Regions from separate parts of the Homo sapiens genome. Here all the other regions are linked to region 3. Evidence: fine-mapped expression QTL. A gene starts in region 3. Each other region holds a variant in brackets. All regions are shown on one strand. Distances are from middle to middle.

Region 1 (10,750 bases), 600 kb before region 3:
CAAGATAATTCAAATTGAGCAAGACAGGGGCATGAGAGACTGAAGATAAAACAAAGGGAGGGGAAGAGACCAAGAATCCTCGGAGAATGAGGCCATGTTCTTGAATGTTTCATGAAAACAACATAAAGCTAGCAGGACCACTGGAACTGTGAAGCTAAAAAAGTTACCCCAACCTATCTGTTCCTCCTAAAATTCAGAAAACTAGTTACACATGAAAATGACCAACAGAAAAGGACTGTTGTTGAATTCCATAAAAATTTATTATAAGAAAAAATGGTAAAGAGCAGAATAACCTTCTTGCAGTTAATGAAAGACATGCCTTTAAAATAGATAAGTTATATAGCCAAATATTTCAAAATGAGCCAATGAAAAAGTTTTTAAAAGATAAAAGATATAAAAGAACAGCATCAGAATTAGAAAAATCTACAAAATTATCATTTTTCTTGAATCCATCAGAGAGCTGAGGTTAGATAACAATGAAGAAAACTGAATTCCAAAAAGGAGCAAGCCCTTTCAGGAAGAAAGAAGACTCACAACTATCTTACCTTTAGCACAGCATAGGAGAAAGGGCCACTCTAAAAATCTATAAGAAATCAAGTACAAATGTGACAAAATGTTAATGACCAACTGAAGGCTAGTTCAGTATGGAATACCTAGGATGAGGGTGGGGACAGGCATAGATGAGTGAGTTTAGCACTCACAGGCATAGATGAGTGAGTTTAGCACTCACTTGCTACTCTTTTCTATGGGCCTCTACCAGGCCTACTGGAGGTGATCAGCTAATGTTAGGAAACAAGCATTAAGCACAGCCTGTTTCAGAGGACCTTCTCCCTTACAAAGCAAAAGCACTGGAGGAAGGGATAGCTAACCCTACTGCCCCATGGACACAGGCAAAAGACACTTTGTGGCGAGGAAAGAGGGTAGAAGGAAAAAACTCTACACCCCTAGGGCAGGGGCAGGAGCAGGAAAAGGTCATGGGTACAGGATCCTACACCAATACGCATCAGATATCTGCTACCACTAAGGGAGAAACAGAAAACTCTTGCCCAACACCAACAACTCAGAGTAGAGTTTGCTGCTATGGGGAGGAGGAGCAGGAACATGGAGAAAGTCCTTTTGGGAAAACTCTTGCTCAACACCAACAACTCAGAGTAGCGTTTGCTGCTATGGAGAGGAGGAGCAGGAACACGGAGAAAGCCCACTGCCAAGCCCTTTTGCCAGGGCCTGCCTAAGATGGATGCTAGACCTGGATCACCAAGAATACCCACTTCCTGCTCCTACCATGAACCTAACGCTGAGTGAGAAAAACCCACTGTATGATACCCAAGCCTCCACCCGAAACACAGGGCAGCAGCAGCCCACAATTAGAGGATGTGAAGTCTATGGTATACTGAGGTTACTCTTCTTGATTTATTGACTCAATCTCCTAACAAACAAAAAGCATGTCCCTATCTGGGCATAAATACTATTTACCTTACTCCCTACTGTTCTACACACAATGTTATAAAAAAGCAGCAACCAAACATCATGTCACTATCTATGGAAAAGTATAACATTAGCCAGGCACAGTGGCTCATACCTGTAATCCCAGCACTTTGGGAGGCCAAGGTGAGAGGATTGCTTGAGCCCAGGAGTTTCAGACCAGTCTGGACCACATAGCAAGACCTTGTTTCAACGAATCTTTTTATTAGGTAGCCAGGAATGGCGGCATGCACCTGAAGTCCAAGCTACTTGGGGGGCTAAGGTGGGGCGATCATTTGAGCCAGGTGTGGGGGCGGGGGCAAGGCTACAGTGAGCCGTGATTGGGCTACTGTACTCCAGCCTGGGCAACAGACCAAGATCTTGTCTCTAGATCCAACTATGAATTCCTAAGGTGTTACAGGCTGAATTGTGTCTCCCCTCACTCCCCACCCCAAATTCAGATGTTGAAGTCCTAGGAATGTGACTGTATTTGGAGCTAGGGTATTTAAAGAGGTAAACTTAAATGAGCTTATTGAAGTGGGCCCTAATACAACATGACTTATAAGAAGAAGAGATAGGGACACAGACAGGCCCAGGGATAAGACTACATGAAGACACCACAAGACGACAGCCATCTACAAGCCAAGAAGAGAGGCCTTCAGAAGGGCCAACATCTTGATTGTGGACTTCCAGCTTCCAGAATTGTGAAGAAATAAACTTCTGTTAATTCTTCCAGTCTATGATATTTGTTTTGGCAGCCCTAGAAAACTAATACAAAAGTTATATAGAGAATAGAGGAACACATTAAACTATAGCACAGGGATGCAATAAACCAAAAGTAGACTGTGGGAAACTCTCTATATTAAACAAAGAGATATCTTTTTCAAATAAATTGCAATGAGAATGAAGGCATTGGAAGGAAAAAGCTTATGCATTAAAATATACCTAAAAACCTTATTTTTAAAAACAATGGCAATGTAAATGTAATTGGATCCTGATTCAAACTATATATTTTTTAAAGTTACGATATTTAAGACAATTAGAAATTTGATCATGACTAGAAATTTCATAATATTAAGAAAGCATCATTAAAGGAAAAAGTACGAAATTTAAAGTCCCGGGCCCCTACAAAAGAGGATTCTAACAGGAGACACCTTACACAATAAACTAGGACCAAAAGAGGCTACAATCTTGAGGTAGCCTCAACGGGTAATCCATACATAGAACAGGCCTCATCCAGATTGACAGTCTGAGTTCCAATTCACCAGGAAATCCGTGGAATCTCAAGATTTAAAATTGGTTTTCTGGACTGATAGTAGCCACAGTTACCTGACACAGCAAATATAAAGCTTCACTAGCAGAAGGTACATTCATTATATACCTAAAATTATCTCTACAAATAATTTTCAAAAACACAGTATTGTGTCTGGAATTTATTCCTTTTGGTGGGTTCTTGGTCTTGCTGACTTCAAGAATGAAGCCAAGGACTCTCGTGTTGAGTGTTATAGTTCTTAAAGATGGTGTGTCCAGAATTTGTTCCTTCAGATGTTCAGATGTTCAGAATTTCTTCCTTCCGGTGGGGTCGTGGTCTCACTGACTTCAGGAATGAAGCCGCAGACCCTCGCAGTGAGTGTTACAGCTCTTAAAGGTGGTGCGTCCGGAGTTGTTTGTTCCTCCCAGTGGGTTCGTGGTTTCGCTGACTTCAGGAATGAAGCCACAGACCCTCGAGGTGAGTGTTACAGCTCATAAACGTAGTGTGGACCCAAAGAGTGAGCAGCAGCAAGATTTATTGTGAAGAGCAAAAGAACAAAGCTTCCACAGGGTGGAAGGGGACCCGAGTGGGTTGCCACTGCTGGCTTAGGTGGCCAGCTTTTATTCTCTTATTTGGCCCTGCCCATGTCCTGCTGATTGGTCCATTTTACAGAGTGCTGATTGGTCCATTTTACAGAGTGCTGATTGCTGTGTTTACAATCCTTTAGATGACACAGAGCGCTGATTGGTGCATTTTTACAGTGCTGATTGGTGCATTTACAATCCTTTAGCTAGATACAGAGTGCTGACTGGTGCGTTTACAATTCTTTAGCTAGACACAGAGCGCTGATTGGTGCGTTTACAATCCTTTAGCTAGGCAGAAAAGTTCTCCAAGTCCCCACTCAACCCAGGAAGTCCAGTTGGCTTCACCTCTCAGTATCAGCTCACAAAGATAAATAAAACACAAGGAAATTAAGACTCCATGAGTGAGAAACAGGAGACAACAGAAATAGAGCCTTAATGACTTAAATGTTCAAATGATCAAATGCAGAGAATGAAATGACTATGCGGAATATACCTGAAGAAATTTTAAAAAGAGCTTAGGGATGTAGTCACTGGACAAGAAAGTAACATTCAAATGACAAAAATACAATAACTAAAATTAAGGACTCAATGAATTTAACAGTGGACCGGGCATAGTTAAATAATTAATGAATCAGAAAACAGATCAGAAGAATTTACCTAAAATGCAGAACATAGAGAGAAAAAGAGAAAATACAGATGAAAGGGTAAGATATATAAAGCACATGGTGAGAGGGTCTGACATATATTCAGTCAGTGTCCCAGATGGAGAAGAGAAAGACAATGGTAAAGAGCCAGTATTTGAAGAGATAACAGCTGAGAATTTTCTAGAAATATTGAAAGAGACAAATCCAGAGATTCAAAGTACAATGGAAAGTAGAAGAAGAACAGGGAAGTAAAGAAAATAATTATATAGGCCAGGAGTTCGAGACCAGCCTGGCCAACATGGCAAAACCCCGTCTCTACTGAAAATACAGAAATTAGCCAGGCATGTTAGCACATGCCTGTAATCCCAGCTACTAATAAGGAAGCTGAGGCAGAAGAACCTAGGGGGCGGAGGTTGCAGTGAGCTGAGATCCTGCCACTGCACTCCAGCCTGGGCAACAGAGCAAGATTGTATCTTCAAAAAAAGAAAAATTTTACAAAAAAGAAAACAAAAGAAGTATACATATCATAGTGAGGATGCAGAAAACTGAGGCCAAAGTAGGCATAGAAAGCAGACTTGTTACCTTCAAAGAAATAGCTTTTAGATAGTCAATTGGTTATGCAACACAAACAATGGAAGCCAGAGGACAGTAGAATAATATCTTCAATATGCTCTAATAAAATAACTACCAACATAGAATCCTATACCCAGAAAAGGATAATTTTAGAATAAAGGCAAAATAAACACATTTTTAAATGAACAAAAACAGAGTTTGCCACTTGTAGACTGATTAAAGAATGTACTTCAATTAGAAGGAAAATGGTCCTAGACAGAAGATCTGATACAAAAAAGACATGAACATTTTAAAAATATTGAAACTGTACATAGGCAAATCTAAATGAATACATATAGTATGAAACAATAACTGTGTAACTTGAAAAAAACTATATAGAAATAAAATGCACAACATTAGCATTTAGATTAGGAGAGGGTAAATGAAGTTAAAAATCTTTTAAAGTTCTTGTTTTGTCCAGGAAGTGAGAATAATTATTATCATTAGCCTTTATATGTAAATAATGATGGTTTTAAGTCTTAGGCATTTATGAATTTGTATTTAATACTCAAAATTACAAGGCAAATGAGAGGCGAATATTCCATGAGTTCAATACATGGTCAATAAATTGAGAAGGCATTTTTGCCATAGAGGGGAAAACAACATTCAGAAAAAAGATGAATATATTTTAATTTTCAAAAATTCATTAGCAAAATAGAATATATCCATTAGCCAAACTTCAAACTCTATTGTCTTTAACAACAACAACAAAAATCCTTGAGTACTAATGTTTTTACTTGCTTAAGTCATATTTATTTAGGTATAATCAACATACAGAAAAAAATCATCCTTTTCAGGTACACAGTTCTATGAGTTTTGACAAATATGTGTGTGTGTAATCACACATATTTTACTGTGTAATCACCAGTAAATATAAAAATAAATACTAAATTGTTTCCATTACCACCATAATGTTCCCTCCTTTGTTGTTAATGCCCTTCCAATCCCCAGCCTAGGCAATGACTAATCTTAATCTGTGTTCTTTCCCCGTAGCTATGCCTTTTATAGGATATAATATAAACAGAATTATATAGTATGTAGCCTTTTGTGTCTGGCTTTTTTCACTAAGCATAAGACTTTGGAGATTCATCTATGTTGTTACATGTATCAGTACCTCCTTCTTATTGCAAAATAGTGTTCCATTGTATGGCTATGC[T/C]ATGATTTAACTATCTGTTCATCAGATTATGAATATTTGGGTTATTTCCAGTTTGGGGCAATTTTTAATAAAGTTGTTATAAACATCCATGTATAGATCTTTGTATGAACATATATTTTCATTTCTCTTGAATAAATGCCTAGATGTGGGATCATATGGTAAATGGTAACACATAACCAGATAACACATAACTTTATAAGATTGCTACCTGTGGTGGACAGACTCTAAAATAGCCCCAAATTATCTTAGCCTCCTGGTATGTGTATCCTTGTGTAATACCTTTGTCTTGAGTCTGGGTGGAACCTGTAACTTGCTTCTAACCAATAAAATACATCAAAGGTGATGGGGTGTCACTCCCATGGCTGCATTACATAAGTTTGTAACTTCTCTCTTGCTAGTAGACTTTCTTCTCATCCTTCTTGGCTCTGATGAATTAAGCTGCCACATGGCACAGTCCAGTGGCAAGAAAATGAGGGCAACCAATAGGCAGCAATGAACTGAGGCTTTCAATGATAGAGGCAAGGAACTGAATCCTACCAACAACCACATGACCTTGAAAGAGGATCCTTCCCTGTTTGAGCTTCAGGTGAGACCCCAAGTGTGACTGACACCTTGATTGAGGCTTTGATAGAGTCCTTGAGGCAGGGGACTCAGTGAAGCTGCATCTAGATTCCTGACACATACAAACTGTGAGATAATAAATGTGTGTTGTTTTAAGCTGCTAAATATATATAACTTATTATGCAGCAATTGATAATACATTACCTAAATGTTTTCTAAAATGATGATACCATTTTACACTCCCACTAACAATGCATGAAAGTTCCAGTTGCTTTGAATACCACTAGAGTGATATTGTCAATTTTGTAAATTATAGTACTGCTAAAAGGTTTGTACTGGTATCTCATTGTGATTTGAATTTGTTTCTCTAATGTAGGAGTTCTTTGTATATTCTGAATGCTAGTGCTTTGCTAGTTATACATGTTGCAGATACTTCCTCTTACTCTGTGGCTTGCATTTTGTGTTCTTCGTAATGCCTTTTGATATGCTGACGAAGTTCCTAGTAAAGTCAAATTTATCAGCATTTCCTGCTCTCATAAATGATTTTTTTTTTTTTTTGAGACAAGAGTCTTACGCTGTCAACCAGGCTGGAATGCAATGGTATGATCTCCGCTCACTGCAGTCTCCAACTCCCAAGTTCAAACAATTCTGGCGCCTCAGCCTTCCAAGTAGCTGAGACTACAGTCATGTACCACTATGCCTGGCTAATATTTTGTATTTTTAGTAGAGACGAGGTTTTACCATGTTGGCCATGCTAGTCCCAAACTCCCAAGCTCAGGTGATCTGCCTGCCTTGGCCTCCTAAAGTGCTGGGATTACAGGCATGAGCCACCATGCCTGGCCTCATAAATGATTTTTTTTTTTTAAAGAAATCCCCCCTACCCCAAGGTCATGAAAATATTCCTCTATATTATCTTCTAAAAACTTTATTATTTTGCTAAAAGGGATTTTGGGTGTACAGTCTGCCTTAAAGTCATGCTACATAGAGGTCCAGTTTTATATTTTTTTCACACATGGATAAGGAGAAAAGATAGAAAATCTTTGTGACCTTAGGTTATCACAGATTCTTGGCTTAGTCACAGCAAGTAAATATCACAGAAGGAAAACTGACAAATTAGACTTGAAATTCAAAGCTTCTGCTCTTCCAAGTACATTGTTAATAACGGTACATTTAAGTCTTAAGCCCTTTTCTATATTTGTGTATTTTCTACAATAAAATGGATTTTAAAAAATAAAACATGCAGAACAGGTTACATAGTATGCTAACATTTATTTTATATGTATATATACTGTATCTATGTGGGAGTGTATGAGAGAGAGCATGCGTGTGCAAGCAAGCACACATATTGAATATAAGAGGGACTCACAAGTAACAACTGTCACTTTTGAGGAATTGGGAGCATCAGGGATGGGAGAGAGACTTAATTTGTATTGTATTCCCTTTTTACTGTTTGAACTTTATACCAAGTATATTACTTTTACAAAATGTGTTTTAAATGTTATTTCAAAAATAACAAAACAAGAATTACATGTTATGCCAGATGTGCCTAATATTACAGTGGGCCAAGAAAACTGGTCCATCTCAGGTTTATTTTAGTGAAGAAGACATTTAAATATAAATGTTGTTTCCTGACACCACAGCTTATTGCCTTGGGCTGTTTTGTAGCTGGTTACATCCCTGGTTTTAACTGGTTTGGTACAGTGATGCCATAGTAAAGTTTTATACACTAGTGATGAAAAGTTACTTGCGAACAACAAAACCCAACAGGTTATTTGACAAGGCTTAAAAGTATGCCATTGATCTACTTTGGGTTTCATCCTGATGTTTATTGGAGATAAAGGCATTTCTCTCCCAGAAACCTGGAGATTTACTCCTACTCATATCACTTAAATAAAATGGCAAAGCAAACCTACTAAAGCAAATGCCCAGAATCATGAGGTAGCCAGCCCAAACAGTCTTATGGCACTGTGGCTAATGCCTATAATCCCAGTGCTTTGGGAGCCCAAGGAGGGAGGATTGCTTGAGACAGGAGTTCAAGAGCAGCCTGGACAACACAGTAAGACCCTATCTCTACAGAAAATTTAAAAATTAGCTGGGCGTGGCGGTGTATGAAAGTAGTCCCAGCTACTCAGGAGGCTGAGATAGGAGGATGGCTTGAGGCCAGGAGTTTGAGGCTGCAGTGAGCTAGGAACATGCCACTGCACTCCAGGCTGAGTGATACAGCAAGACCCTGTCTTAAAACATAAACAACAACAACAAAAAAACCAGTCCTAAGCATTCTCTAAAAATTACTTGTTGTTTTGGATTGCTGTACGTGAATTACTGTGGGCTTTTTAAGTACTCACAAAAGCTTTTCTAGATGACAATACTCACAGGAGGAAAAATCGAGACAATCAGAATGAAGCTCCTATTTAGTAATGTGTTTAGTAATGTAGTAAAATTTTAGTAATGTATTAATGTTAGGAATATGAAAGAAAGAAAATTCTATGCAATAGTTAACAACTGATTCAGCTGAGAATACTTCACTTAATCCCCTTTCCTAAAGGCCCATTATGTATAGCTGTTGTTTCCACCACTAGGTCATCCCGTTCTATTCTCTTGCTTCATCCTCAGCTTGCTATCTCAAATCCTTTTTTGAATGAGGACTACATGTACACACTCCTCAGGCTTGCTCGCTTGCTTTCCTTTCTCTCTCCTTTCCTCCCTCTCTTGTGTATGGGAGGAATGGGGGTGGGTTAAGATCCCACTTCCAGTGACTGATTATAAATGCCCTTCCTTATAATACACTGAGGGAACCACAGGACATCTTTTCCTCTTCTATGAACTTCCGTAGTCAAAAGCTCAAGGAGGGTAGTCATGCTGCTCAAGCCTTTTTTTTCTTCATCTGCTGAAATGTTCTTTTGGTAAAACACACCATAACATAGTATGATAAAGATAAATGAAGGACATTTACTGAAGGAAATGAAATATTTTCGGAAACCTCACTTCTTATATTTCTTTTTCAAGAATGATCTAAGTCATAGTTTGGTGTTTTGTTTTTATTTAGTTTAAAGTTCCATTTGGTATAAAGACTGGCTATATTAACATACAAGAAATGGTGATTTCCTAGCAGGAATTTACACACTATTTCCTTCATTTTGATATCTAAATATAACCAGCACAACTAAACTCTATAAAGGTAAGCACTCAAGATCAGATTAATTTATTCAATTTTAGGTTTGGACTCAGCACTTTAAAGCCATGCTCTTTATTAAATGCCATGAAAGAGTGAATCTACAGACAGGCGAGATTCAAAGGCCAAGGGTATTTTTGTAAGTAACGACCTTGTTCCTGTCTTCTCTACCATAACTTTGAGAAATTATGAACAGTGTGAATCTAGAATACGATTTCTGATTGCCTAAGAAGAACAGAATGTTAATCTTGGCATTAATATGAGATATTTCAATCTGAAAAGCAGCAAGTCTTTCAGGATTCTAGAAAGACAGCCAAAGAAAAGGATGTCAACAGGAACACCAAACCCAGTAAAGACATATAGTCTGAGACATCTAGGACATCCACTTTGTATTAATGTGATAGTTCTTATAATGAGAGAAAATATTAAAAAAAAAAAAAAACCCAGGCCATCAGATGTTCTAAGAATGAAATATCGTATCTAATTATGTGACAGTTTTGCTACCAATATCTACCTAACAGTTCCCTTTCTTCAGATAAAAACCTCAAATTCTGCGCACGCGTGCACGCATGTGTGTGTGTGTGTGTGTGTGTGTGTGTGTGTGTGTTTAGAGACAAGGTCTCACTCTGTCACCCAGGTTGGAGTGCAGTGGTGCAATCACAGCTCACTGCAACCTCGATCTCCTAGGCTCAAGCAACCCTCCCGCTTCAGCCTTCTGAGTAGCTAGAACTACACGCACCACCGCCATACCCGACTTGCTTGCTTATTTATTTATTTACTTATTTAGCAGACAGTGTCTTGCTATGTTGCCCAGGCCAGTCTCAGACTCCTGGCCTCAAGCAAATGCCTAGAAATGACTGACTTGGACTGTTGCTGCCTTTTATTTACCTTTTGTTTGCTTGAAGCACTTCAGGACTTTTCTAGGATCTATCAATTGCTCAGCACCTTATAGGCTGTGCGGGATGAGGACTGGAGAAGTGGAGGACATCCTTATGAGATATATTTGTTTTCAGAGAAGGCTGTGTCTCTGTTTATCATTGCAGGCAAAGAAGATTTGAATCTGAGACACTGTAAAACTTGAAGCAGAGTTTACAATCTGTGCTTGAGGATCCCAAAGACACCATTCAACACATCTCACTATCCTCTAACAAGGACTGCCCTGTGACACATCTGAAAGAGAAGCAACAATTTTATTCAGACTCTTCATGGACTGGCCCTCTATTTGGGCAACTACATAATATGTAGATCTTTGATATCATATCTGAGAACAAAATTTTGTCAGCTGTGCAGGAACCAAATTATCCTGGG
Region 2 (10,750 bases), 460 kb after region 3:
ATTCTTTCTCTATCTCATCCCATCCCTCCCCACCGCTTTCACAATATTTAATAACGTGTGTATTCCCAGATATGAGTCTATATTGTTTTAAAGTTTTGAATGCAGAAACATCTTCTACCTAAGAGTATTTCACATTGTTTTTTTTTTTTTCGTCTTTTGTTTTTTTTTCCGAGGTGGAGTTTCGCTCTTGTTGCCCATGCTGGAGTGCAATGGCACGATCTTGGCTCACCGCCTCCCGGGTTCAAGCGATTCTCCTGCCTCAGCCTCTCGTGTAGCTGGGATTACAGGCATGTGCCACTACGCCTGGCTAATTTTGTATTTTTAGTAGAGACAGGGTTTCTCTATGTTGGTCAGGCTGGTGTTGAAGTCCTGGCCTCAGGTGATCCGCCTGCCTCAGCCTGCCAAAGTGCTGGGATTACAGGCATGAGCCACCGCACCCGGCCGTATTTCACATTCTTGCAGAACTAACTGAATATGGAGAGTTACTTTACCAGACCCTGTTTATACCATGTATATCTTATTATTGTATGTGAGTGTGTAATAGTATATCACCTTTGAACTGATCATTGCCCTCATGGAACACTTTTAGAGTTAAAAGTATAAAACTGGGCTGGGCACAGTGGCTAACTACTATAATCCCAACACTTTGGGAGGCCGAGGCGGGTGGATCATTTGAGGCCAAGAGTTCAAGACCAGCCTGGCCAACATAGTGAAACCCCGTCTCTGCTAAAAATATTTTTAAAAATTAGCTGGGCGTGGCCAGGCGCGGTGGCTCACGCCTGTAATCCCAGCACTTTGGGAGGCCGAGGCTGGTGGATCACGAGGTCAGGAGATCGAGACCATCCTGGCTAACACAGTGAAACCCCGTCTCTACTAAAAATACAAAAAATTAGCCAGGCGAGGTGGTGGGCGCCTGTAGTCCCAGCTACTCGGGAGGCTGAGGCAGGAGAATGGCATGAACCCCGGGGGGCGGAGCCTGCAGTGAGCCGAGATTGTGCCACTGCACTGCAGCCTGGACAACAGCGACACTCCGTCTCAAAAAAAAAAAAAAAAAAAAAAAATTAGCTGGGCATGGTGTTGTGCACCTGTAATCCCAGCTACTCAGGAGCCTGAGGCAGGAAAATCGCTTGAACCCGGGCGGTGGAGGTTGCGGTGAGCCGAGATCGTGCCACGGCACTCCAGCCTGGGCAACAGAGGGAGATGCTGTCTCCAAAAAAACAAACAAACAAAAGTGTAAAATTGAAGCAGTGGGTATTTAATTCATGGCTTACCCTCAAGACTTTTGCCTTCTAGAAAGATTTTTTTTTTTTTTAAAGACAGAGTCTCCTTGTGTCACCCAGGCCCATAGCTTATAGAAGATACGAAGTTACAACTAATGTCGGTGTGTGTCATGAGATTCTTTTTTTTTTTTCAAGAATAGTTTTGGGTGTTGAGCAAAGTATGTATAAACAATTAATGCCAAAAAAATTAAAAAAGATACTTTTTAGAGAGATAGCCTCATTGTGTAGCCCACGCTGGAGTACAGTGGCGTGATCTCCGCTCACTGCAGTCTCCACCTACTGTGTTCAAGCGATTCTCATGCCTCAGCCTCCAGGGTAGCTGGGATTACAGGCATGCGTGCCACCACCCCCGGGTAATTCTTCTGTATTTTTAATAGAGACGGGGTTTTGCTACGTTGGCCAGGCTGGTCTCGAGCTCCTGACCTCAGGTGATCCTGCCCGCCTCAGCCTCCCAAAGTGCTGGGATTACAGGCATGAGCCACTGCGCCCGGCTAGAAAGATCTTTAAATCTAAAATACGCTCTTTGTATACTTGTTTGATGTAAGAGGTAATTGTCATTGTGTTCCCTTTCAAATAAATTTGTGATAACAATTCTATAAGAGTAAGGGGAAAATAATTTTCTCAACCTAGCAATTCCAGTAGAATGGTGATTCTAAAAGTTGAAAGCACCTCAGAGGACCGTGTCATCTGCAGTCCTGGCTCCTAGGAAGGTTTTTCCAGCAGTTAACTGATGTGTTAAGCAGTGGAGCAAGACATTCTTGAGAAGAAGGAAGCACTAGGCAATTCAGCAGTGGCTAATAACAGCTAAACAGTCCATCTAGATTGTTGCTGTAAGCCTTTGCTTTGCTTAATATCCAGGCCTTTTAAGTGCCCATCGGTCAGGTTTAAGAGAATGATATATACTGAAGTTGTAACTTAGCAGTTTATCTTCTTAGGGCGGAATGTATCATGTAGACAGGAGATAGATCCTTTGAGGTAAATGATGACCAACAGCGTGTATATTTTGTTGTTGTTGTTTTAATCTTTATTTTATTTTAATTTTTTTTGAGACGCGGTTTCACTATGTTGCCCAGGCTGGTCTTGAACCCCTGACCTCAAGTGATCCTCCCTCCTTGGCCTCCTGAAGTGCTGGGATTACAGGCATGTGTTTTGTTTTTTTTTTTTTTGAGATAGAGTCTTGCACTGTCACCCAGGCTGGATTGCAGTGGCGCAATCTCGGCTCACTGTGGCCTCCGCCTCCCAGGTTCAAGTGATTTCCTTGCCTCAGCCTCCCAAGTATTTGGGATTTCAGGCGTGCACCACCACGCCCAGCTAATGTTTTTGTATTTTTAGTAGAGACGGGGTTTCACTATGTTGGCCAGGCTGGTCTCGAACTCCTGACCTTGTGATCCGCCTGCCTTGGCCTCCCAAAGTGCTGGGATTACAGGTGTGAGCCACTGCGCCCGACCGCATATATGTTTTGATAATGTAAAGTTCCTTAAGGAATTTATAATCTAAGGTAAATATATATGCACTAAAAATGACTGTTAAAAATCCTCACAGAAGAAAAATCAGGCCTGGTGTGGTGGCTCATGCTTGTAATCCCAGCACTTTGGAAGGCCCAAGCAGGAGGATTGCTTGAGTCCAGAAATTCAAGACCAGCCTGGGCAACATAGCAAGACTCCATCTCTTAAAAACATACAAAAAATTAGCTGGGTGTGGTGGCATGTGCATGTAGTCCCAGCTACTCTGAAGGCTGAGGCTTTAGGATCACTTGAGGTCAGGAGTTCGAAGCTGCCGTGGGCTATGATCACGCCACTGTAGTCCAGGCTGGGTGACAGAGCGAGATCGTGTCTCAAAACAAACAAAACTTCCTGGAGTCTTCCTTGACTTTTCTAAGATTTAGAAGGTCAGTGGACCATTATTTGACCTTAGAAAGTTGTTCTGAAGACGACTTTTTTGTTTGTGTGAAACAGTGTCTGCTTACTCTTTTTTCTCCACTGAGTAGAGAATGCGGAGCTTTGTATAAATATTGCTATACTATATGGAATACTGTTTTCAGATGGTCCAGTTAATCTTTCCCAAAGATTAAAAAATGAGGAGTATTTAAAATTTAACAGTATTTACCTACTAAATATTTAACTATTAGCAGTATTTGACTATTCAGTGGTTAAAATTACTTAGTACAAATACGATGGTCCCTATGTTTATGCAGTAAGCCCTTGAAAGCCCTTTCATTCTGAGATGTTCAGCTTTGAGAAAATGCATTTGATGAGAAAACTAGTTCTCACTTGTAGCAGGGATTTATCCTACTTCTCTAAAGTTAGATTCAATAATCCTCATGGTTTTGAATAGCAATGCCTAAATCCCCAAGATCTGCAAAATGATCAGTTTTCCTGAGTTCTAAATTTAAACAATAAAGCCATTCTTACTCTTGTTTTTCTTTTTTCCCACATAGAAATACCTGCTAACTTTTCATTCCTCTTTCTCTGACATCTTTAGAAATGTATTACCCTCAAATATTTAATCTTAGTAATTATAAAAATAGTATTTGCTGTATTTATAGGTATTTCTATTTTCCAATGAGGAATACTACTGAAAGTATTTTATTTACTCCCATTCACTTTGCAGCTGCTGCAAAGATGTAGGGTTCTCCATAGAAATGGGAATTTTCCCCCCCAAGTTTGTTCAGCTTCTTGCCAGAGCTAATTGGACTAAGGTACAGATTGGGAATAGGTTTCTGTGATGTCAGCTGAGTTCTACAAACACTTCTGTGTCACCCAGGTGTTAACATGCTAGAAATGGAGAAGAGGAAGAAATATCAAATAAATAAATAAAACCCATTGTCATCGATGTAGTATTAGAGGTGTACTCAAGGTGAAGAAGTTCTTAATTCTGTCTAGATAATTCATTAATTCTGTCTAGTAAAAATGTCTGGTAGTCATTAATTCTGTCTAGGGAGAATAAGGATAGGAGATATGGAAGGCTCCATAGAGAAGGTGATGCCTGAGTAGGATTTTGAAGAATAACTTGTCATATGGATGAGGTGGAGAAAGCCATTTCAGACAGGCCACAGAATTGTGGTGTACTTGGTGTGTTTGGAGAGCTGCAGGTAGTTGGAGGTGATTGAAACATGGAGTAAAGGGCAGTAGTAGGGAACGAAGCTGGAGAGGTATGGCTGCGGAAATGTCAGTGGAAATTTCTTTTTTATCAAAAAGAACAGAAATAGCCCATCATAAAAATAGAGCAGGCAAATGCTGATCTTTAGAAACTTGTTATATTACCTGTAGAAATTGTTTTTGCTTTGAGATAACTTGGCAATATATGAATTTCACATACCTAAATTATCAAATGCGACATTAATTTTTTTTGAAACAGGGCAGGAATGGAAAGTATATTTGTGCAGTATTGTGTTGATACTACACTTGGCTTATTTGGGATGTAAAGCAAAGGGTTAGGACCCTAGAGAAACACACATTTTCATAAGGAGACATGTACAAAAATGTTTATTGCTGGATTGTTTCTAGCAGTGAAAAATTGGAAGCAAACTGAATGCTGTCAACAGGAGAGTGGATAAAGTTTGGTGTATTTGTATAAGGGAATATTATTCAAATGAATGAACTGGGTATATTAACACAGTTGTATCTCTAAAGCAATATTGAACTAAATAAAATTACAGGGTGAAACATAAGTATTGTTAAGGATTAGATGAAGTTTAAATTAGATAAGACAATACTGTGTATGGTTTATAGATTAAAGTTTTTTTTTTTTTTTTGAGACAGAGTCTCTGTTGCCCAGACTGGAGTGCGGTGGCACAATCTCGGCTCACTGCAATCTCTGCCTCCTGGGTTCAAGTGATTCTCCTACCTCAGCCTCCCAAGTAGCTGGGATTACAGGCACGTGCCACCACACTCGGCTAATTTTTTGTTTTTTTTTTTTTTTTGTATTTTTAGTGGAGATGGGGCTTTACCATGTTGGCCAAGCTGGTCTCGAATTCTTGACCTCAAATGATCCCTCACCTGGGCCTCCTAAAGTGTTGGGATTA[C/G]AGGTGTGAGCCACCTTGCCCAGCCTAAAGTTTCTTTTTTTTTGAGATGGAGTCTTGCTCTGTCACCCAGGCCGGAGTGCAGTGGCGCTGTCTTGGCTCACTGAAACCTCTGCCTCCCAGGTTCAAGCAATCTTCACACCTCTGCCTCCCAGGTAGCTAGGATTACAGGCGTGTGCCACCACAGCTGGCTAATTTTTTTGTATTTTTTAGTAGAGATAGGGTTTCACCATGCTGGCCAGGCTGGTCTCGAATTCCTGACCTCAGGTGATCCGCCAGCCTTGGCCTCCCAAAGTGCTGGGATTACAGATGTGAGCCACTGTGCCCAGGCAAAATATTAAAATTTCTATTTTTGAGAGACAAGGTCTCGCTCTGTCACCCAGATAGGGTTGCAGTGGCACAATCACGGCTCACTGCAACCTCAATCTCCCGGGTTCAATCTGTTCTCCAACTCAATCTGTTCTCCACCCTCAAGTAGCTGGGACTACAGGCGTGTGCCACCATGCCTGGCTAATATATAAAAAAAAATTTCTTTTGTAGAGATGGGATGTTGCCATCTTACCTAGGCTAGTCTTGAACTCCTGGCCTCAAGCAGTCCTCTTACCTTGGCCCCCCAAAGTGCTGGGATTACAGGCCTGAGCCACTGCAACCCGCTGTTTCGTTATTCTTGACACGTTTCTGAAAACACAAGGAAAAGAGAGGTCAACGAAGATGATGGATGGAAACACAGACAGCAGTAAAGAAAATTAAGTTATCTGAGTTATTACGAATGAGCATGATAGATGTGAAGTGCTCCACAAAAGGAGGGGATACTTGAGCAGAATGTTGGGGAATATAAAGTAGAGAGAGGTGGGGTGAGGACTGAAATGTCTAATTCAGTCAGATGTTCTAGCTAACGATTTCTTTCTCTTGATATTTTTTAGAGAAATATGAAACGCAATGGGAGCAGAAATTGTTTGAATAGGAGAAGTAGGTTTGGTTCTCGAGAAAGAGACTGGCTAAGAGAAGATGTAAAGAGAGGCTGTGTTTACCTTTATGGAGCAGACACTACCACTGCCACTACAACCACCACCACCTCCTCTTCCTCTTCCTCCTCCTCCTCTTCCTCTGACTTACATCTCGTCCTTTGCACTGTAGAGACACCAGCATCAGAAATATGTGCTGGAGAGGGAAGAGAAAGTCTTTATTTACAGCTTCATGGAGACCTGGTCAGGTGAGGTCTCAGTTTTACCACTCTAATTCTACCGTAATATAAATAATAATGTGTTTCTGCTTAGAACTGGACTTTAGGATTTTAATTCTGCCGGAACTGATGTTGATTACGGACTCACTGGGCTTCAAGATTTGTCCTTGGAAGGCTGACTTTATGAATCTTGAATTTAAAAACTATTGACCAAGGAAAATTTGAGAGTTCTTTGATTTGGAATACACCATAGGTCAGATATCTAAATTTAAAAATAAGTATTTTAAAAGTTAAATTTTTTTGGCTGGGCACAGTGGCTTATGCCTATAATCCCAGCACTTGGGGAGGCTGAGGTGGGTGTATCACTTGAGGTCAGGAGTTCGAGACCAGCCTGGTCAACATGGCGAAACCCTGCTGCTACTAAAAATATAAAAATTAGCCAGGCATGGTAGTGCGCACCTGTAATCCCAGCTAGTCAGGAGGCTGAGATATGAGAATCTCTTGAACCTGGGAGACCAAGGTTGCGGTGAGCCGAGATCATGCCACTGCACTGCAGCCTGGGTGACAGCAAGACACTGTCTCAAAAAAAAAAAAAAGAAAAGTTGTTGTTTTTTTTTTGAAAAGTGTAAATAGAATGAAATTTTTAAAAAGGGTATAGAGTGAGAAGTACTTTTCTGTCCCTCATTCCCCAACTACCCAGGCCTGTTCTTGATAGTTATTACCAGCTTCTTTATGCACGCTAGGAATATTCTGTTAAATTATAAGCATATATGTGCCCATGCGTGAGTATGTGTCTCTACATATATTATAAATTTTAAAACTCATGGTGCTGTATGCAACACATTATTGACTTAATATCTTTTAGAGATCTTTCCATGTTAAAATTTATATAGTTGTCACTTATTTAATGGCTGCAGTAGTGTTCAATTTTGAGTCTACTATAATTTTAGCCAGTCTTCTATTAATGGACATTCAAGTTGTTACCAGTTTTTTGCTACTACAAGAAGTGCTGCAGTGAGTATCCATGTACCTGTGGTATCTCTCATATGTGAGAGTCTGTATGATAAACTCCTAGAAGTGGAACTGCTGGGTCAAAGGATATTAGTATTGTTAATTTTCATAGTTACTGTCAAATTCTTCTTCATAGAGGTTATATTTCCATCAGAAATATGAAAGTATATCTATTTTCTCCTTACTTTCTCAAAAATATGTTAGTAGTAAATTTTATGTATAAATAGAGGCACATACACATGAATGAGCTCAGACTTGCTCTTAAATAGAAATGATTGTTAAAAGTTTTAAAATTAGAGAATCATAAAGTCAGCATTCCAACGACAAATCTTTTTCTAGGCCAAGTGACTTAGATTTCTGCAAATGTGAGAGGAATTTTGTTGTTTTGTTATTTTAATTTTCATTTCTCTTAATGAGCATATTTTCATGGGTTTAAAAGCCATTTGTGTGTTGAAAAATTTTTATGCAAATGTGAAGAAAATATTTTTATAATAGTCTTATACTATGCATGTGAACTCTTTGATTCAGCTTTTTAAAGAAAATCGCTGTTAGTTCTTTGAATTAGTTGTCAAATAAGAGGTCTTTAAATGCCTGACCATGATTTTTCTCCTTTCTGCATTTCCTGTCATTGAAAAAGTGTCTTGAAACAGAATTCAAAGCTGTGGATTTAATACTGTTGAAAGTGAAAAGGAAGCTCCCACTTACACCTTAAAAGTGTGGTAATAATAGTAACACCTTTAGCTGAGCTAAAATTTGATGTCATTTTTAAAGTCTAAACTGAGATCTACTATGTGTTCCTTTTAGGATTTGGACTAATTCCTGAAAAAGTAGATTAGCATTTGAATGTTTTCCTTGTTCACCAGTTTACTACATTTGCTAAATCCATTTGTAAAACGAAAGGATCAGACTGGGTGATCCTTAGGCTTTTCTAAGTCTTAACACTGATTCTGATCTAATTTTATCAGGTGGAAAGCCTTGACCTATATTATATCTGGTAGTGATTGATTAACTTATTTAAGTATATGGTGTATTCATTTGTATAGTAATGTTTATGTATACAAAGATATTAGAAATACGAAGAAAACCCCACTGGAATGGCTTGCTACTAGTAGTTGTGTAATTAGTTAAGAATCCGAATGTGATAGTTTATTTACTTATGTGTTTATTTACTTATGTGCCCTGTAGCCTTCATCATTTATAATGAAATAGCCCTTTGAAGGTATAATTGATTAGAAAATAATGAAAGCACTATTGAACTGTGGTTTCAAAGAATGAATATATTTTCATTGCTGGAGTAGGAGCTCAATAACTTTTATCCAGCTAAGGATGATGATGATGGTAGATTTCAGCTAACATTAAGTGCTTTCATGTGTTGGTATGCTTAGTGCTTTATGCACATTTTCTCATTAAATCCTCACAATAACTCCAAGGGAGGTAGTATCGTTGCTTTTAGATGAGGAAGATTGAGGCCTTGAGAGAGATTCAGTAACCTGCTCAAGGACAGGCAGGTACTGCCCTGCAGTTGGAATGCCTGAATCATTCAAGGTAGATGATGGACTTCTTTCTGAGTAAAGGCCAGCTGTGACAGGAACTGGCGCAGCAGTGACACTTCCTCAGTTTCACTATTTAATCATGCTTATTTCAAGATTGTTTTTAGATCTGTTACTCAGCTGTTACTTGTTTATGATCAGTTTTACATTATCTAATCAAGGGAGTATTTTCTGCGTAAAAGCCCTTTGTCAGATAGTTGACAATCTAAGGCATTATCTTTTTAAGGAACTTTTTGCTGATTACTGAAGTATGTTCACCGAAGAAATTTTGGAAAATGAAAAAGCATAAAGAGAAATGATAATCAATGCTTATGCTTTATGTAAATTACCTCATTTAATCCTCACAACCATCTTGTGAGGTAGACGCTGTCCCCATTTTATAAATGAGGAAATTAAAGTTTCACAGGGTTAAGCATCTCATCTAAGTGCAATCGGCTACTAAGTGGTAGAGCTGGAGTTTGAATCCTGGCATTCTTATACTACGTCTGTCTTCTGTATTGCCTCCCCATAGTAACATTATTTTTACCCAGATCTTTTTTCAATCCCACATACTTTTAAATATTTATGTATTTGGGCTCACATCATATTCAGTTTTATATCCTGTCTCCTGTCTACTTAGTGGATCATCTTAATTCCTTTTTTTTTTTTTGAGACGGAGTTTCACTCTTGTTGCCCAGGCTGGAGTGCAGTGGTGCGATCTCGGCTCACTGCAACCTCTGCCTCCTGGGTTCAAGCGATTCTCCTGCCTCAGCCTCCTGAGTTGCTGGGATTACAGGCATGAGCCACCACACTTGGCTAATTTTCTGTATTTTTAGTAGAGACGGGGTTTCTCCATATTGGGCAGCCTAGTCTCAAATTCCTGACCTCAGGTGATCTGCCCGCCTCGGCCTCCCAAAGTGCTGGGATTACAGGCATGAGCCACCGTGCCCGGCTGGATCATCTTAATTTCATGGTGTCATTAGAAATTCTTTAGACACCAGTTTTAATAGTTACAGAATATTCCTCTGTATGGATATACTATAAATTGAGACATAATATGCAGCAATGGTTTAGAGATTGGATTCTGGAATGAGAGTGTATGGGTTCAAATCCTGGCTTCGACAGTTACTATGCAGGATATATAATGCTCTGTGCTTCAGTGTAGTAATCTGTAAAATGGAAGATGATAATATTTACATTGTTGAGTTGTCATGAGGATTAAATTATAAATGATATGAAGATTAAATGAATTAATATTTGTAGTGCTGCTTAAACTGTCCACCTGTGGGGCTTGTTCAAGTACAGATTCTGATTCAGTAGGTTTAGGTGGAGCCTGAGAATGTACATTTCAATTAAGCTCCTAAGAGATGTGCTGTACTTCAGATAGCAATAAAGTACTTAGATTGATGTCTGGCACCTAACAAGTGCTCAATAAATATTACCTATTTCAGTTGTCTGAAATCATGCAAGTCTTAGAATTGGTGTTGCATTGACTAAACCATTGCCCATGTATTGTCACATTGCTGATTTCCCTAGGCTAGGTCCTGGAAATGGGATTACTGGGATTAAAATTACCCCACGTTTTCTCTGAGTTATTCATTACTACTTTATGTTTTTTTTAACCATGAGTTATCACTTGACTATAACTCAAGAATTACTAATTTATAGAATTTTAGCACTTGAGGAAACCTTAGAGAGATCATCTGGTGGTGAAACTAAATCTACC
Region 3 (10,309 bases):
GGGAGTCAAGAATCTGCATTGCGGATGAGGTTGCAAATTCAGACACAATAAACAGAATTAAGAAAAACTGAGCTGGCGTTTGACAGAAATTGTAAAATGACACTCAGAAATGTTGCTCTTGTGGAAATTACTGATATTAAAATATAAATCAGTGTCTTGTGTTTCCCATAGCACCAGGGGCTCTATTAGGTTATGCAGTTTGATTGCTGAGCTGAACCTAAGAGACTTGGCAGTTCAGAGCTGAAGTTATCACAAAGCATTTAACCCTTCTCCTGCTGGAGAGCAGGCACCTCTGAGAATGCCAGTTGATAATATCGCCCTCAAAAGTCCTTGACTTTTTTGTTGAGCCCTTTGAAACCTGGGAGAAGGTGGAGGAGGGCTGGGTTGGGGAGAGAAGATAAAGGAATTTGGAAAATCTTTTCTTAAGACAAGAGTCTTGTTGCATAGTGCCAGCCCAGGGCAACTCAAGAAGCAGAGTCTATGTTGGAGAGTTTATGGTGGAGAGGGCAAAGAAAAAATGCCCATTAAAATTGTCTGAATATTACCCCATTACATTATTTATTTAATCCCCATAACCACCCTGTAAGGTAGGTATTATTGTTCCAGTTGTTTCCAAATGGGGAAACTGAGACTCAGAGAAGTTAACTTGAGTCAAAATGTGAGCCCTGACTCCATGAAGAAGTGGCTGAGGCAGGGAAAAGTATAAGATGAACCTGGAGCATCTCGTACCCAAAAGTAAGAATGTGCTTAAGAATGGGTATTGTTGAAAGGGCTCAGGAGCCAACCTTTGGCCCATTGGCCAAAGCTGGAACATTTGAGCAACAAAATAAATAACAGTATTAGATTATAGCCCATATAATAGATATCCATGAGTTCATAGTGATGTAAACAATACATTAATTAAATGGGTGAGAAAGAGCAGCTCTTTCTTACAGAAGAGTTCCAGCGAATAAATGTAGAAGAAATAAAGGAAAAAGAAGACCCCCATTAGAATACTACTGTAACAATTATTGCAAGTGAGATCCACCTTGCTAAAGATAGCAGGTGACAGTTTGAAGAAAAACAGGATATTTGTATACTCTTAAAGTATCTCCCTTAATATATTTATTAATTATAGTGGGGAAAAATAATAACTTTATAGTAGATAAACCCAGTAGACACCAGCATAACCAGGTGACCAAGGTCAACATCATCAGGGATAAGATGCATTGATATCATGTATCCCTGACATGATACACTAAGAAGGTGTATGACACACTTGCCCAAAATGCATAGCCTCAATCTCAGCACAGAGAAACATCAGGCACTTTGGGAGACCGAAGCAGCCAGATCGCTTGAGCTCAGGAGTTTGAGACTAGCCTTGGCAACATGGTGAAAACCTGTCTCTACAAAAAAATACAAAAATTAGCCAGGCTTGGTGGTGAGTGCCTGTAGTCCCAGCTACTTGGGAGGCTGAGGTGGGAGGATTGCTTGAGCCTGGGAAGTCGAGGCTGCAGTGTGCCATGTTCACACCACTGCACTCCAGCCTGGGCAACAAAGTAAGACTCTTTCTCAAAAAGAAAAAAAAATCAGGCAAATTCAAATTGAGGGGCATTCTATGAATTAACTTTCCAGTACTGTTTAAAAGTGTCCAAGTCACGGAAGACAAGGAAAGACTGAGGAATTATCATAGATTAGTGGAGTCTAAAGATATAAAACAACTAAATGCAATGTGGAATACTGAATCAGATCCTAGAACAGAAAAAGGACATTAGTGAAAAAACTGGTGACATCCTAACAAAGTATGCAGTTTTGTCCATAGTTTTGGACCCATGTTAATTTCTTAGTTTTGATCATCGTATCATCATGTAAGATGTTAATATTGGGGAAACTGGGGAAAGGGTATACAGGAACTCTGTGTACTATTTTTGCAACTTTTCTGGAAATCTAAAATTATTTCAAAAAGGTCTGTGTGTTCCTGTTCTTTCACCAGAATAGATCACTTCTACCTTTGGGGAGAGACAAAGCAAATCACAAACAACCATAATAAAGGCAGATCATTGTGTTAAAAGAGGTATGGGAAAAGGGCTGTAAGGGGGAAAGGGTACACACCTGGCAAGGCTGCTGTGAGGATTAGCTCTGTTATTTTATGTTCAGAACACTGCCTGGCATATAGTAGCTGCCATACAAGAGTTAATGTGACATGTAGTTTAGGGAAGTTGAAAGAAATGGCAATTGGGTTGGGTCTTGAAGATGTGTGACTTTGGACAGGCAGAAAGAATATATCTCGTAAAGAAAGAAAGAGCAACCAATTGGGAGAATTTTCTCCATGTCAGTCAATGATAATGGCAACAAAGATTAGGTGGACTGTGTACTTCAAAATGGGAAATTTTCCAAAATGGCATGGGAGTAATAGTGGTGGCAGTAGGAAGGCTGAAATGTTCCTCTCTCCCTGACCCTGGCTGTTTCTACTCCATACAGCAAATAGAGAAGGAGAAAGTGAACACAAAGAACTGACATCTCAAGAGAAAACCAAGGCAAGTCGAGAAAGGGAAGGGGCATTTGAGAAACATATCTGTGGAATCGCTGAAGAGCTGGTCCACCATGAAACAGGGGTTCCAAAATGTAGAGTATAAGCAACTAGTGGAGGTGCTAGAAACGGTGAGTGAACTGTAGAGAGAGATCTCTGAGAGTAACTTAAATAAGTGTGTTTTGTCAGTGTCAGCTTGCATTAGATTCAGGTGTATGAAACAGAAAAATTAAAAACAAAATCATTACTTAAGCAAGATAGAAATTGCTCCTTCTATCCAGGGCTGGCAATGATAGTTCCATAGCATTAAGGCCTCATGTTCCAGATGGCTGGTGGAACACCAGGCATTAAGTCAGCATTACAAGCCATTAGAAAGGTGGGAAGAACAAAGAGCTGTGCACTACTTCTCTTTCAGAAGATTTCATGGAAGTCCCCACAATACTCCATTTTATGTCTCATTGACCAAAACTTAGACACATAATCATACCTAGCTGCAAGAGAGGCTAGGAGATAGAGTCTTTTAGATGAGTGCATGCACATCCCAATAAAATGAGCATCTGTTACTAAGGAAAATAAAGAGTATGGATGTTGGAACAGACAACAAACAGCCTCTGTGAAAGGTAGCAAAGAAGAGAGCCAGGGGGAGACATTTTCACCTAGGACAGTGAGTCTCATAAATCCTGGATTCCTTCTCCTGCTCCTCCTGGCCCCTAATTTCTTCTGTCATTCAAAAGCCTCTTTCTGGAGAGACCCAACTAGCCCTACTTTCTCTCCAGAAGAACTCCAGTCCTGGAATTGGACTGTGGCTCAGTCAGTGACATTGGTGTCAGGTTCCTATTCACTGTTACTCTGCAGAACCCCAAACCCTGGCAAAACCATCTCCAACATCATCTCCTCATACCATCTCCCCCTACCAGTTATGCTCTGCACTACCAGGGATTTTCTCCTTTAGAACCGGGTTTGGATTCAAAAAGGCGAACTCTCTGCATGCCAAGCCTCTGCACACCAAGCCTCTGCACATTGGCTCCAATCATACTTTCTGGGTAGAAATAATTAGTATACAATAAGTATCCCTGTCTGTTCATGGGGCTCACACATTTTTAAAAATAGAGAAAACCTTTAGCTCCCTCTCATCATTTCAATAATTAAGAGCTCTAAGATTCATCACACTTTTTTCACTGGTAGGAGGTAGAACATTGGAGAAAAATCTAAAGCCCAACATAAGTAAAGGAAAGACTTATGGCTTAGTATAGGTAAGCCTGAGTTAGTTTGTATTATCCCACAAAGATAGCTTTAATTTTAAACCAAAAAAGCATCTCTTTCCTGAAAACCCGGAAACATGTTTTAGATTAGGAAAAACAGACCCTTGATATTCTTCCATCCAGGCCATGAAGGAAAAGGAATAGTCGGTGTTCCTTGGAGCAACAAGGTTGCTGTAAGGCCAGGAGTCAACCATATACCCAGGCACTTACCAGTTCCTTGGGGAGGGAGTCAAAATTAGCAGTCTGTGATTACGGCATTTGTGTAACCCAATGTGGGCAGGTGGTATGTGAAGTACTAACTGATGTGTTTCACATCCTGGCCTGCTAAAACTGCATTTCAGAGAACTTGTTCACTTATGCCCCTTTTCCTTCCTCTCTCCAAAACCACACAAAGACTGTTTGAGTTAGGAAAGAGGAGGAATAGGGTAACTGGAACATAAGCAGGAGAATTAGACCCTGGTGAGATCTATGAGATGGGGCAGAAGGGAGGGAAAACAATAGATTCCCAGATAGGTTTAGTGATCGAAGGGCAGAGGGACTTTTGATCAAAACCAGGAAAGTGAGCATTCTGTCCTCTTTCTCTCAATACCTTTCAAGGTAAAAGATAGAATGCTGATAGGACAAGTCTAAGAGACAGTCTGAATCTACTCTCATGTGGTGTGTGTGTATGTATGTGTGGTATGTGTGTGCATGTGTTTGTGTCTTGATGGGGAACAGGGAGGAGCATCTTCAAAGGATGAGGAAGTGCCAGATGACCCAAAGCCCTTAGGATGAGGAAGACACAGGATATAAGGTGATATGGTTTGGCTGTGTCATCTTGAATTGTAATCCCACAATCCCCATGTGTTGTGATAGGGAGCTGGTGGGAGGTAATTGAATCATGGGGTGTTTTCCCCCATGCTGTTCTCGTGATAGTGAATGAGTTCTCACGAGATCTGATGGTTTTATAAGTGTCTGGCATTTGCCATGCTGGCACTCATTCTCTCTCCTGCCACCTTGTGAAGAGGTGCTGTCTGCCAAGATTGTAAGTTTCCTGAGGCCTCCCCAGCCATGCAGAACTATGAGTCAATTAAACCTCTTTTCTTTATAAATTACCCAGTTTCGGGTATTTCCATATAACAATGTGAGAACAGACTAATACTAGTACATGTGGCCTACTGACCAGGACAGTGACACCTCGGCATACTCTAGCTAGGAGAGATGCCCATGACCATGGACCACAAGCTTCCCCTGGTGCCAGGATCCAAACTGGGACCTCAAAATCTTAAGCACACTCTGGAGACGCCTTAAAGAGGTTGAGAGAATCATGAACTGTGAGGGAATCATGAACTGATTCATTTTTAACCTGAAAGTCGTGGTGCTTTCTCAGAAATAACTAAGATTGTGTTTTCTGCCATTTGGTGAAAATGGGGCTAAACAAAAACACTGAGTAATAGAAAGAGTTACTTTCTCTTTTTGCACACCTGACTTGATACTTGCTACCTTAGTCACCCATTTGAGGTGTGGTGTTAGGTGTTTCTTGGGAATCTGCAAGGTGCTCTGATAGTAGACTGAGGGAAGGCACAAAACATCACTAGAAGCTCTGACCAAGTTTTTGTTTTCACTACAATCATTTCTTTAGGCACAGCTGTCACCAAGAGAAGTCCTACTTTGAAAAGCAGATGGCAGGAGTTTTGAATACAAAAAAGGAGTTGCCTGGGCAGATGGCAGTAGACAAGGCATGAAGAAATGAAGGTCTCAACAGAGACGCAAGAGGCAGAACAGAATATGTAAGAACAAGGGTTCAAGAAGAGGGAGACATGAGCAAAGTCCTGGCTTCAGAGAGTCAGTAGCCGGGGATCTGGTAGAGAGTCCCTGCCTCTGGGATGAGCCCTTCCTCCACAAAATATCTGTCCAGCCATACTCCTCAGTCAGACAGCACTGTGAAGGTTCACATGGCATTTCGTAAAGCCTGTGGGGCTCCCCCAAAACACTCTTCCCTATCCATCTGGCAAACATTACTGTCAAATGTATCAAAAACTTATCATATAACACTTCCAGTTTTTTCATCATAAGCCCTTCCAAACTGCCTGCTGCTATTGTTAATGACTGAAGATTCTGACATCTCCTTCATGGAACAAACTCCAGCTCTCTTTTTTTCTTCCTACTTACCTTACTTAGTAAATTTCAATATATTTTCATGCAAATGTTAGAACCTATGCCTTCTACTTTTCCTTCGAAATGCTCTTGGCTCTTGCAACTACAGCTGTGTAACTCCATAGCGGATGAAACCATCACAATCTAGAAAATCATTTCTCTGTCTTTTGGACAAGATTTCATTTGATTTCAGAATCATCTCCTGACTATCCAGTGGGCTTGCCTGCAAAGAAGTATGATTCTCAAGGATACATTTGTTCCATTACAACTTTTTGTATGATACTTGGGTGAGTTCATAGTTCCTCCTAAAGAAAGGTGTCCATCGTGGTAGAGCACTGAATCAGTGAACTTTAAAGCTAGGAAAGACTTCTAAAGGCCATTTATTATAGCTTCCTAGCTTACAGAAGCAGAAATGAAGCCTCAGAGATATGAAGGCCTTTGCAAAGGCCACTCCTCCAGTGAGGTGCTGAACCAGGTTTAGAAGCTTGGTGGCCTAGAATCCTGTTTAGTGTTCTTTTATGCCACGCTATTTTTAATCTTGCTTGACTAGTGTGGAAGTCATTTGTGAGTTCGCCAGTACAGGCATACCTCGTGTTACTGCTCTTCACTTTACTGTGCTTCACAGATATTGCATTTTTAACAAATTGAAGGTTTGTAGCAATCCTGCATCAAGCAAGTCTATTGGCGCCATTTTTCCAACAGCATGTGCTCCCTTATGTCCACATCAGCATTTTTTTAGCAACAAAGTATTTTTAATTAAGTTATGCACCTTGTTTTCTTAGACATAATACTATTGCACGCTTAGTAGACCACAGTATAGTGTAATCATAGGTTTTCTATGCACTGAGAAACCAAGAAATTTGTGTGACTTGTCTCATTGTGATATTCGCTTTATTTTGGTGGTCAGAAACCAAACCCGCAATCTCTCTGACATATGCCTATATTTCTTTGAGGAGGTAAAGGAAGAAGTTAGGCATGGCCATGTGACTTGTTTTGGCTAATGAAATGTGAGCAGAAGCAAAGTGTTTCACTTCCGCTTTAAGAACCAGTAGGTGATTCACCAAGTTCCCTTTCTGCTACCATGGCAACAGGCAACATACTAGATAATAGAAGTTCACCAGCTGAGGACTACGAGGATATTGAGGACAATGTGGAGCAGAGCCCCAGCTGACTCATAAAGGACATGTAGCATGAGTAAAAAATAAACCTTCACGGTCGTAAGCCACTGAGACTTGGGGGTTGTTTGTTACTACACCATCACCTAGCCTGTCCCCACCAGGTGAGCCTGAGCCACACCTCCATTTCCATGATGCACCTCTGTGCATGAAGACTTCAGAGGGTACTCAATGCAGGAAATCAGAATTCAGCTCCATAAAACATTCCAGATTCCACATATCACCAACATTCTTTCTTCCTCTTGGCTTATATTAGGGATAGGGGATGTGGTTTGTTACAAAGGATGAGTATTTTGATAGCTTCTCATTCCTTGAACTATTCTGCAGGTAAGTTCCTGGTGGAAATTCCTCTATTCTTAGGGTTAAAAACAGAATGAATGAGATGATTTTAATAAGCTCAGTGCATTATGACCTCAAATGCATCATCCTGTACTTACATGCACATACATGTGCAAAGATCTTTGGTTTCCTGGGAGGCTTTCTAGCTAGATAAGTCTCAGCACTTCACATGTTTCCTAACTTTATGAGCATCAACATTATGGCAAGCTGATGCTTCAAAAACACCATATCATCAGATATTTCATATGAATAGTTACAAAATTAATGGAAGCTCCTCATAGAGTAGTAAGAGAGCCTCTGTGACCCTGGGTAAGTCACTTAGCCTCTCTGGGCCTCAGTTTCCTTATCTTTAAATGAGGATAGTAGTAGTCCCTGCCTCCCAGGGTTCATGTGAGAATGAAGTTAGGTCATGCACATCATGTCTGGTTCATAATAAGTACATAATATTAGCTATATCTGAGCCATAGAGTACATAGAAATCTAAAAAGTAAACTCGATTCAGACTTTTTGCTTTCCAAGAAGGGTAAATTCAGAAACTGTTTGGTTCACCAAGTAGTGGTTTTCTGGAAAAGATGTAAAACCATGGTCCTGCCATCTGGAGGTTTTAACACCCTTTTAAAAACACAAACAGATGGGTAAGCAAGTGGGTATTGCTAACAGTTCAGGAAAATTTTCCAAACCTCTTGCTGAGGGCATAGATCCAGCTGGGAAAATCTTTAAAGGGCAGAGGCTCATTTATACTTTTTCCATCTTAAATACTTGGACTTTTTCAGGTTTATAACAAAGCTCAGAAAATACTAAAGGTTAAAGGAGAATTGAGAGCTGCCAAGGAAATGAAAGATGAGGTAAGGCTCCTAACTCCTCTACATGCATGGAGTTGAATATTCATTACAAGGGACTTTTTTCATGTTTTATGATTCAAAATTCCAGTAATAAGCATCACAAAATATCATGGACAGAGGTGGGCAGCAGAGCATCGTGTTTAAGAGCCCAGACTCGAGCTGGGTGGGTCTGGGTCCATATCTACCAGCAGTATGATACTGAGTTTGTTTCCTACTTTTAAGTTTCCTTTGCCTTATCTAGAAAATATGAATTGTGATCACCTACTCTAAGTTTCCTTTGCCTTATCTAGAAAATATGAATGATGATCACCTATTCCAAAGACTTGGTATGAGGATTAGCAAAGGTAGTGCATGTAGAAAGCACTTAATCGATATTAACTATTGTTGCTAACATTCTCTCTTTATCTGGAATGATATGAAAATGGAGTGTCTGATTAGTTTAATATTTTGGTCAAACTGTGTTTATGGGGCCAGGCGCAGTGACTCAAACCTGTAATCCCAGCACTTTGGGAGGCCGAGGCAGGAGGATCACTTGAGCCCAAGAGTTTAAGACCAGCCTGGGCAACATGGTAAGACCCCTGTCTCTACAAAAAATAAAAAAAATTAGCCAGGTGTGGTGGCACGCTCTTTTGGTCCCAGCCACTCAGGAGGCTGAGGCAAGTGGATCACTTGAGCCTGGGAGGTTGAAGCTGCAGTGAGCCATGATCACACCAGTGCATTCCAGCCGGGGCGACAAAGACCCTGTCTCAAACAACAACAACAGCAGCAAACTATGTTTATGTATGCCCTACCTTGTTCCAGAAAGGATTTAAGGGGACTTTTTTGATGAGTAAAGGATTGTCCCATGTACCATATGCTTTTTAACAGACCTCCTACCAAGAGGTGAGCAGATTCTGAAACAGGCAGTCCACTCCTTTCCTGCTGCATTACTGGAGCCATACAGAACTTCATACCAGTTCTGTGGGGAACAAGGATCTCGTATGGATTTTCTAGAAGGCTCTTTCTTCATTTAATTTATATCTTTGGAGCACCTTCAATATGCCAGGCGTTCATTGTTCTAGGAGCTGGGAATAAAGCAGTGAACAAAATAGACAAAGATCTCTACTCTCATGGAGCTTACCTTCTTAGTAGAATAATTTCTCAAATGATATGATAGTGAAAAAAGTCTGTGAAAATTGCCCAGGTGCCAATAAAAATCAGCCCACGTTCCATAGGTGGCTGATCTCCAACATATGTCATATGTATCCTAGTCTGTATACTTACAGGGTGTGCCAATTTTGTTTTTATGGCAAACACTAATCTAGCCTTCCATGATATGTGTCAGACAGTGTTCTAAGTACATTGTATTTACCAATGCATTTAATCCTTGCAACAACCTTAAGAAAGCCATAATTATCTCTATATTATACATGGGGAAATGTAGGCACAGAAGTTAAATAACTTGTGCTTGAATACACAGCTGATAAGGGGATCTCTCAGATATCTTTTTTAATTTGTTAATCTGTGTGTGTGTGTGTGTGTGTGTTTATCTTTCTTACATTTCATAATGTTTTCTTTATTTTTTAAATCTTTTTTATTATACTTTAAGTTCTGGGATACATGTGCAGAATGTGCAGGTTTGTTACATAAGTATACACCAATTTTAAAAGAATTTAGAACACCATAAAATATAGTCACTCCTCAGTATATGAACATAATTGGTTCTAAATTTTTGTTCACAGGCAAAACCTTGTATAAGTACCCATTAATTTCATTCATAAGTAATGCAAAAACTGTAATATTTCTATAAATGGAAAAGTCAACTTGGGAATCAAGTCAGTAATATCAATAATAGTGTTTAAAATTACTGTAGATAACTGTAAACTCTACTATTACACAAGTGAAATGTAAGAATTCCTGAATCAATATTAGTTTTTAAGGTTTCATGATTCTTAAGGCATAACTCTTACCATAAATTGAATGGTTGTGATATTAGTGGTGGTTAAAAGTGGTTTCCCATTGATTATTGAAGATTTGTCCTCATCCTCAGACAAATAAGATAATATC

Alleles and levels. Alleles are on the strand shown, and positions count from the first base shown. SD is a standard deviation of normalised expression in the study named. Not every link is listed here.
In carriers of allele C in region 1, the expression in prefrontal cortex of the gene that starts at base 7,308 in region 3 tends to be higher than with T alone (large effect, 1.4 SD a copy in CommonMind).

The links. PIP is the estimated chance that this variant, and not a neighbour inherited with it, causes the effect. A credible set is the group of variants that fine-mapping cannot tell apart.
Region 1: its variant is the best candidate, but not a certain one, in a credible set for the expression of PMFBP1 in prefrontal cortex (CommonMind, PIP 0.78).
Region 2: its variant is the best candidate, but not a certain one, in a credible set for the expression of PMFBP1 in putamen (GTEx, PIP 0.50).

What each region holds. Positions count from the first base shown.
Region 1 is chr16:72,764,828-72,775,577 of GRCh38, reverse strand. The region is part of intron 3 of ZFHX3-AS1 (ZFHX3 antisense RNA 1); the gene reads right to left. Among named protein-coding and RNA genes, the nearest start is that of ZFHX3-AS1, 110 kb to the right of the region's middle. RefSeq lists an enhancer at 3,647-4,846. The variant T/C (reference allele first, on the strand shown) is at 5,710.
Region 2 is chr16:71,710,276-71,721,025 of GRCh38, reverse strand. PHLPP2 (PH domain and leucine rich repeat protein phosphatase 2) reads left to right here. Exons shown (of 19, transcript NM_015020.3): 2 at 6,225-6,514. The coding sequence starts at 6,231. Among named protein-coding and RNA genes, the nearest start is that of PHLPP2, 9.0 kb to the left of the region's middle. The variant C/G (reference allele first, on the strand shown) is at 5,305.
Region 3 is chr16:72,169,154-72,179,462 of GRCh38, reverse strand. PMFBP1 (polyamine modulated factor 1 binding protein 1) reads left to right here and starts at 7,308. Exons shown (of 21, transcript NM_031293.3): 1 at 7,308-7,409; 2 at 8,195-8,266. The coding sequence starts at 8,255.